Regions from separate parts of the Homo sapiens genome. Here regions 1 and 3 are each linked to region 2. Evidence: fine-mapped expression QTL. A gene starts in region 2. Each other region holds a variant in brackets. All regions are shown on one strand. Distances are between the middles of the regions.

Region 1 (2,766 bases), 130 kb before region 2:
ACTTAGAGAAAACAGAGACACAGAGATGTAAGCTGCTTGATCAAAGCTTCTTCATTCATCAGTGGCAGAGCCAGCCCCAGATAGCTCTGGAAACATCTAAGGTATAGTAACTATTAAGTCACTAAGTTGTTATTAAATGAGTGCTCTGTTCGGGGCTGAGGTAAAAGTCATTGTGAAGATATGAAAGTACTCACCCGTTGCTCCATTGTTGCTTATTAGACTGCTCAGAATATACTCTGCTTTTAAAAGTTTTCCTGAAAAGCAGCAACCAAATGCCACACAATTAGCTTTGAACATGCACTTAACAATTACAAGTTGTTCATGTTCTAAGACTGATATATTGCAGCAGGAACTGTAACCTCCTTTGGAAGCATTCCATTTTATAATTTAAAATCAACAATGACATCATCTATAAAACTGAAAAGAAAGATGAAGTTTTCCTAAGTTGGTAAGGTGGGAAGTTGGACAGTATCTGAAATGAAAATTAGATTCATATGTATGTGATAATTCATTCACATAGAGCAGGGTTTGAGGAGTAGAGGCAAACTTTTCTAACAGGCTGTGCCGCCTCCCTGTGAAAACTATACTTCAGGAAGTGGAATAGAGTTGCCCGTGGACAGGAACTAGTTATGGAATTATCTGGCAGGAATTTGGGGGTGGGGAGTGAGGAGATTCTTTCTCAAGTTTTTACTTATTTTTGTTACTACCACATAGGAAGGGCCTATTCTATGGACACCTGTTGGAAACACAATTATTTATCCTTTTAACCAAACATTCCTTTCTCTAGGTTCCTCTAAGCCCTACATGATCTGGCTTTCATGACTTCTTTGACCTCACCTCTAACTACTTATTCCTTCCTTCTTGGCCCTCTACTTCAGTCACAGTGGCCTCCTTATCATCCCTTGGGTAGACCAGGCTCATTACCACATCAGAGTTTTTGTATTTACAATTATTTCAGTGTGTAACGCTTTCATCCCAAATATCTGCAAGGCTTCCTCTCTTCTTCTTCAGGTCTTTGCTCAAATGTCACTGTCTCTGAAGGCCTCCCCTGACCATCTTATTTTAAATTACATACGTAGACATACACTCTGGCTGTGGTAGGTTGTATTTCCAAAAAAGACCACACCAGTATATTCCATTCTTCACGCTCGTTTGCAATGATGACCTGGCCATTTTTCCATCAAAAAGTGGAATCTAGAGTTTATTTCCCTTCACCTTGAACACAACTGGCCCTGTGACCTGTTTTGACAAATGGAATGTGGCAGAAGTCTGGGCGTTAAGGGATCTTTAAATTCTGCCTTCCCTTCTTGGAACTTAGCCCAATGCTCTGAGGAAGCTGAGGCCGCCACATGGAGAGGCCCATGCAGAGGACAGCTGAGGCCCTCCCCCAAGGCCTCTGCTTGGCTCTTAGCTGGCAGCCAGTACCAAATGCCTACTGTGTGGATGAAACCATTCCAGACCTTCTAGCTATCCCAGCTTCCAGCTGACAGTACTTATAATAATCACCCAAACTACAAATTATGAGACTGAATGAATTATTACTGTTTTAAGCCACTATGTCATGGAGTGGCTTTTAACA[T/A]AGCAATGGAAAAATCATGCACTTAAAAGTGGAGTACTACTATAACAAAAACTTTGGAGACTTGAAGGGTGTTGCAGAGACAAAAGGCAGTGAAGAAATTGTTCCTGGAAGTTTGAGAAAGGGAACAGACATTATACGGTGTTGTAAAGTTTGGCAACATGGTCTCCAGGAGTAATGTGGAATGTAGCAAAATGTAACCAGTGGACTCGGTGTCTAGCTAGGGAGATACCCAGGAAGGATATTGAAAGTGCCAAAATGTGTATCTTTTAGTTACCCAAGATAAAGTACAGGAAGAAAGCAATAACCTAAAGAAGAAACTACAGTAGTCCCCTCTGTCCCCAGTTTCCCTTTCTGCAGTTTCAGTTACCAGCAGTCAACCACAGTCCAAAAATATTAAATGGAAAATTCCAGGAATAAACAATTCATAAGTTTTAAATTGCGTGCCGTTCTGAGTAGCGTGATGAAATCTCATCCTGCCTGGGACATGAACCATTCCTTTGTCCAGCGGATCCATGCTATCTACGATGATCACCCATTAGTCACTTAGCAGACCTCTCCATGATCAGATCAACTGTCTGTCAGGTAATGCAGTGCTTGTGTTCAAGTCACCCGTATTTTACTTAACAATGGCCGCAAAGGACAGGAGTAGTGATGCTGGCAATTTGGATGTGCCAAAGAGAAGCTGTAAAGTGCTTCCTTTAAGTGAGAAGGTGAAAATTCTCAACTTAATAAAGAAGGAAAAAATTCATATGCCAAAGTTGCTAAGGTCTATGGTAAGGATGCATCCTCTATCCAAAAATGGTGAAGAAGGAAAAAGAGATTTGTGCTAGTTTTGCTGTCACATCTCCAACTGTGAAAGTATGGCTACCGTGCGTGATAGATGCTTAGTTAAGATGGAAAAGGCATTAAATCGGTGGGTAGAAGACATAAACAGAAATGTGTCTTGATTAATGGCAATCAGGCTTGGGCATCTACTGGGGTCTTGGAACGTATCCCCCATGAATAAGGGGGGACTACTGTATTCCATTTTTAAGCAAGATTTAGGGAAAATAAAGACGGCCCAGAATAGTTTTTCCAGACAGCAAGACATTCTGAAGATAAATTTAAAATATTAAAACCTGGGGCAAAGGTCAAATTCAGGGCACTGGCAGTAAAATGTGACCTTAGGGTCAAGATCAAACCAAGGG
Region 2 (2,766 bases):
AATTTGAGAGATTCATCTCAGATTTAAAAGATCTTTGATATGGGGAATAAGTTATTTCTAAAATAAGTTTAAGTATTTTGTTTCTCTTGAGGCTTGAGGTTGATGGGGTGGGAAGGAGGTGGGAAGAGAGAAGTAAATTGTTTCGGTCAGCAGACAAGGACTGGACTTGACATTGGTTCTAGAGACTAGAGTGTATCCCAAGTGCATAAATTATACCCCAAATTAAATGGATATTGTTTCTTATAAGAGAATTAGTGGCACAAAGTAAAAAGAAAGTAAAAGGGAGAGAGAGAGAGACAGAGAGAGAGAGAAATATATATCGCAAGCAGAGATGCTATTATATTGTGGCATAAAGTCCTCTCCTTCCTGATCCTGCCTGTTTGTACCCTCACCCATCCTCAAATCCCAAACCATCTTAAAGGTTTTAATTTGTGGCTTTTCAAAGTACTCTAAAGTACTAATTTCAAACACTAGAATTTTTTAATTAAAGGATTTTTCTAAATAGACATGCAAAGGAATTTAATTTTTCTGGATGCTTTGTCTCTAAACAATGCTTCCACGCACTCAGAATTCCCGTCAATTCACCCATATGAGACGAGTAAGTCTCGTGCCTTATCTACCTGTTTCCTAGCAAAATTACTGATGCTGTCATAAAAGTGGTAGTTTCTATTATTACCTATGTATTCCAGGCAAAAGTCATAGAGTTTTTTTTTAAACAAATAATCCTAACAATCCTTTAATTAAACATCTCAGTTAAGTGACAAGACCAGAAGCTCAGTGACTTAAGAAACTTGTTATTAAAACCTTATGAAAAACTGGTTTGCCTTCTCCCCTTCATAATGACTACAGTTTACCATTGTAGGTAACTTTTCCCTTCTCTCCCTCCCCTTCCCCACTCCACCCCCTTCACCCCACCAACTCATCCTCCCCTTTCTGGAAAGTTTCTATTATAGAAGTGCAAAGGTTCTTAGAGCTCTAAAGTTATTTAAATATAAACAAGATCAGCAGATGGAAACTGAGTCAACACTTAAGACAAATACTTCCTCATATATTATGCCATCTACTGCGTTTTGTCATTTAAAGGATGATACTCACTTTTATCTTAAAGAGGAAAAGTACTTTAAGACCAGCAAATCTAACTCTGAGCAGAGTTAATTCTGGTACAGCCTCTCTGAAACACACTGTTTCTCATAAACGGCTTCAGTTTCAGGAAGTAGGAATTAAAAAAAAAAAAACAACCAATCCTGTGACTGTCTCAGAATATGGTTGTGTAATTCAATTCCGGGACTTTCAGCAATCTTGCACCATAAGACACACCCCTTTAGGAATTGCTTCGGTGAAAGGTATTCTGGGAGCTGTATTACTACAGAAAAGTTCCTTCTCCTAATGAAAGTGCAAGAAAAACTTATTATTTAGACTAAGAATGGAGAGTCCTCTTAGAGCCAAGAAGAGAGAATGTCAGTAAGAAACAATGAATATGACATTGTTGAAATCTGTTAGCAAAAGACAGATGCACATTAAGGCTTCATTCTGTGCTCTGTCTTAGAAGTGAGCTTGTTATCACAGAGACACATATATTGCTGAACTGGAAAATAAAGTTAGGACTTTTTGGATAGAATATCTGATTAGGCTGACTAGTTTGACAGTGAAAAGTGTCTTATTGAGTTACACAGTGGACATTGTCCTTCCATGGAACAACTGAAATCTGCAACTCGAAATTTTGACAAAAAAATCAAAAGTACCTAAGATTTCTAAATGTCAAAATATATTTTATTGGAAAAGTTATTGACATAAACAATATTTTAATTTTCTCAATCCTTTTTGAGCCTGCTGGGTTAAAGAAGTTTCCTCTAGAGTGAAGGAATAATAGGTTTTATTAATAGTCATTTGATACATTTTGGTAAAGCCTTTGGTATACTTCCTAGAAACTGAGAGAGTGAAGGACTCCAAAAGCTGGGTCATAAATGCTTTGGCAAGTCAATTGTTTACAACAAAATAGGAGGAAATAGTTGAATAGTCAGTTGCTCGATCACTTAAAACACATTTTTTTTGTGTGATAGATCGCTATGTAATGTTTAATATATGACCTTAGAAGTTTAAATAACCAAATGGCATTGCTATAACAAAATTCTATCTCTATTTATTTATGTAAACACAGTTCCTCTCCTCTTCCATGTGTATATTTTTGTGGAATGTTGTTTTATTCCAACTATAAGTAACATTCAGCTGTGAATTAATTTTTTAAAACTCCAGAAATCTTATGGAGAAGTGACACTTGAATAAATTTTATCACTTAATATTCATCAAAACGTACCATTTTATTTTTGTCTTCTTCATCAATTATGAATCAATACTTGTACAATTCAATCTTTAAGAAAGTTTAATACTTAGAGTCTATGGTCACAGAAAACAGAAATGTTTAATTTCTTTTTTCTTTTCTATTTTTTTTTTTTTTTTTGAGATGGAGTTTCGCTCTTGTTGCCCAGGCTGGGGTGCAGTGGCACAATCTCGGCTCGCTGCAGCCTCTGCCTCCTGGGTTCAAACGATTCTCCTGCCTCAGCCTTCCGAGTAGCTGGGATTACAGGTGCCTGCCAGCACGCCCAGCTAATTTTTTGTATTTTTAGTAGAGGTGGGGCTTCACCATGTTGGCCAGGCTGGTCTCGAACTCCTGACCTCAGGTCTGTCTGCCTCGGCCTCCCAAAGCACTGGGATTACAGGTGTGAGCCACCACACCCAGCCAGAAAGGTTTAATTTCAATATATACTT
Region 3 (2,766 bases), 150 kb before region 2:
TCTCCATCTAATTTTCCCCAGCCATCAATGCTTTCTGCCCAGATCCATTATTTCATTAATGGATGCAAAATCATGATTTTCTAGTTTAGTCTTTCTATGTTTATTAGTTGGACTTCTTCTATGATGTTGAATAGAAGTGGGATAGTAGGCAAATTTGTCTTGTTCCTTTTCTCAACTTAAAAGTTTTAATTGCTTCACTATTAATTATGGTATTGCTGTTTTAAGTTTAAAATAAAAAAACCTTTGCCAGATTTAGAAACCTTTTCTTTATTCTTAGTTTTCAAAGAGCTTGTTTTTTTTCTTTTACCATGAGTTGATTTGGAATTTTATGAAATAATTTTCTACATCTTGTGAAATTACATGATTTCCTCCCTTTACTTTGTTAATAGGATAGATTACATTTTTTTTTCATTTCCTTAATAAGCATGTATTAGCTTTGGTTTTCCAAGAAGCAGATACCAGGAAAGGATTAGACATGAAAGACCTCTATTGGGAGAAATGATTGTAAAGGATCAGTTGGAGGGAACAAGAGTAGGCAGGGGACCATGCTGTGGGCCTGATGCCTATAAAAGGAGAGAGCAAAGAAAAGAGTTTTTTTGTTTGTTTGCTTTTGTTTTTTGAGATGGAGTCTTGCTCTGTCGCCCAGGCTGGAGTGTAGTGGTGCCATCTCAGCTCACTGCAACCTCTGCCTCCTGAAAAATTAGCCATGACCAGCTTTTTTTTTTTTTTTTTTTGTATTTTTGGTAGAGATGGGGTTTCACCATGTTGGCCAAGCTGGTCTTGAACTCTTGGCCTCAGGTGATCCATCTGCCTCGGCCTACCAAAGTGCTGGAATTACAGGCCTGAGCCACCACGCCCGGCCTTAAGAAAGTTTTGGTTAGGCCAGTGCTAAGACTTTGTTCCACAGTCACAGTCAGCAGTTAGAAATATTCTGAGACTAGTGTCCTTGTCATGCTTAGTCACTGGCTGACAGCACATTGAGGGCAACATGGCTTCAGCATAAACACAGTGATGGATTCAGGGGAGTGAAAGCTGGGAGTGTCAATCAACTGTGATCCCCACAGCAGGAGATTGGAATGGGTCTTCCTTGCCTCAACTGCAACTGTGAAGAGACATGTGCAGCAACCTCAAATTGAGAAGAGTATAAACTATCAAATGTTTGGACTTGATACATGAAGATCATGTATGTAAGTTTGAGTCTCACCAACCAGGTAAGCCACCCAGACTTCCTGAGTTAATAGTTAAGGCTGAGGGAAACTTAGAATGAACAGTGGAGGATAGGGAGAGTGAGCACCAGTTGCAGCCCCAAGAATAACTGCAGAAAAGAATTGGTTTATCTCACTAGTCGCCCTTTTGTTTCTTTCAGTAAGATCATGGAGGAGCTGTTTCCTAAACCTGTGTGAAGAAGTAGATCTGTGTAGGGTAAGGGATGGACTGTGGTAGCCAGGAAAATGTATCATTCTTCTTCTTCTTTTTTTTTTTTGCAAGACTATTCTTTTTTT[TA/A]AAAAAAAAAAGCTTTATTGAGGTATAACTTACCTACCATAAAATTCACCCTTTGAGTGTCTAGTCCAATGGTTTTGGTATATTCATAGAGTTCACAATATTCAATGATTTTTTTTTTTTACTTTTATTTTAAGTTCAGGGGTACATGTGCAGGTTTGTGTCATGGGGGTTTGTTGTGCGAATTACTTCATCACCCAGGTATTCAGCCTAGTACCCATTAGTTATTTTTCCTGATCCTCTCCCTCCTCCCACTGTCCACCCTCTGATAAGCCCTGGTGTGTGTTGTTCCCTCTATGTGTCCACCTACTCTCATCACTTAGCTCTCACCTATAAGTGAGAACAAGTGGTATTTAGTTTTCTGTTCTTGCATTAGTTTGCTAAAAATAATGGCCTCCAGCTCTATCCATGTCCCTGCAAAGGACATGATCTCATTCTTTTTTATGGTTACATTGTGATATGGTTTGGCTTTGTGTCCCCACCCAAATCTCATCTCGAATTGTAGTCCCATAATTCCCATGTGTCATGGGAAGGACCTGGTAGGAGGTAATTGAGGCAGTTTTTCCCATGCTGTTCTCGTGAGAGTGAATGAATTCTCACAAGATCTGATGGCTTTATAAGCATCTGGCATTTCCCCTGCTGGCACTCATTCTCTCTCCTGCTACCCTATGAAGAGGTGCCTTCTGCCATGATTGTAAGTTTCCTGAGGTCTCCCCAGCCATGTGGAACTGTGAGTTAATTAAACCTCTTTTCTTTCTAAATTACCCAGTCTCAGGTATCTCTTCATAGCAGTGTGAGAGTGGATTAATACACATAGTGTTCCATGGTGTATATGTACCACATTTTCTTTATCCAGTCTACCTAAATGCCCATCAAGGACAGACTGGATAAAGAAAACTGTACCACTCTTCCATCTTACTTTTTACAGATTTAATTATACTAGAAGGAAATACAGGAGAATTAAAAAGAAAGAAACTCAGAGTATAAGGAGGATCTAAGTATTATACATAACCAAAAAGCCATACAAAATAAAAGATTGATGAATTCAACTACATATAAAATTATGCACAGATAAACTTTTATGCAAAGTCAAATGTCAAAAGACAGGAAAACAAATTGAATTCGTATCACAAAGGCTCACATTTTTTTAATATGTAAAGAACTCCCAAATCAATAGGAAAAGCCCCAGTAGTATCAGTCTTGACAGATAGTGACAAAAAGCTCTAAAATCTCAATGGCTTAAACAACACATGCCTTTCTCAAGAG

Direction of the effects. Alleles are on the strand shown, and positions count from the first base shown. SD is a standard deviation of normalised expression in the study named. Not every link is listed here.
For the expression in visceral fat of the gene that starts at base 1,196 in region 2, T is the high allele of the variant in region 1 and A is the other (moderate effect, 0.45 SD a copy in GTEx).

The links. PIP is the estimated chance that this variant, and not a neighbour inherited with it, causes the effect. A credible set is the group of variants that fine-mapping cannot tell apart.
Region 1: its variant is the best candidate, but not a certain one, in a credible set for the expression of ALPK1 in visceral fat (GTEx, PIP 0.75).
Region 3: its variant is the best candidate, but not a certain one, in a credible set for the expression of ALPK1 in whole blood (INTERVAL, PIP 0.84).

Annotation. Positions count from the first base shown.
Region 1 is chr4:112,421,432-112,424,197 of GRCh38, reverse strand. It overlaps ALPK1 (alpha kinase 1), which reads right to left. Exons shown (of 16, transcript NM_025144.4): 6 at 195-254. Among named protein-coding and RNA genes, the nearest start is that of NEUROG2-AS1, 93 kb to the left of the region's middle. The variant T/A (reference allele first, on the strand shown) is at 1,580.
Region 2 is chr4:112,295,799-112,298,564 of GRCh38, reverse strand. It overlaps ALPK1 (alpha kinase 1), which reads right to left and starts at 1,196. Exons shown (of 16, transcript NM_025144.4): 1 at 1,096-1,196. RefSeq lists an enhancer at 1,138-1,432.
Region 3 is chr4:112,441,464-112,444,229 of GRCh38, reverse strand. It overlaps ALPK1 (alpha kinase 1), which reads right to left. Exons shown (of 16, transcript NM_025144.4): 16 at 1,609-2,766. Among named protein-coding and RNA genes, the nearest start is that of NEUROG2-AS1, 73 kb to the left of the region's middle. The variant TA/A (reference allele first, on the strand shown) is at 1,503.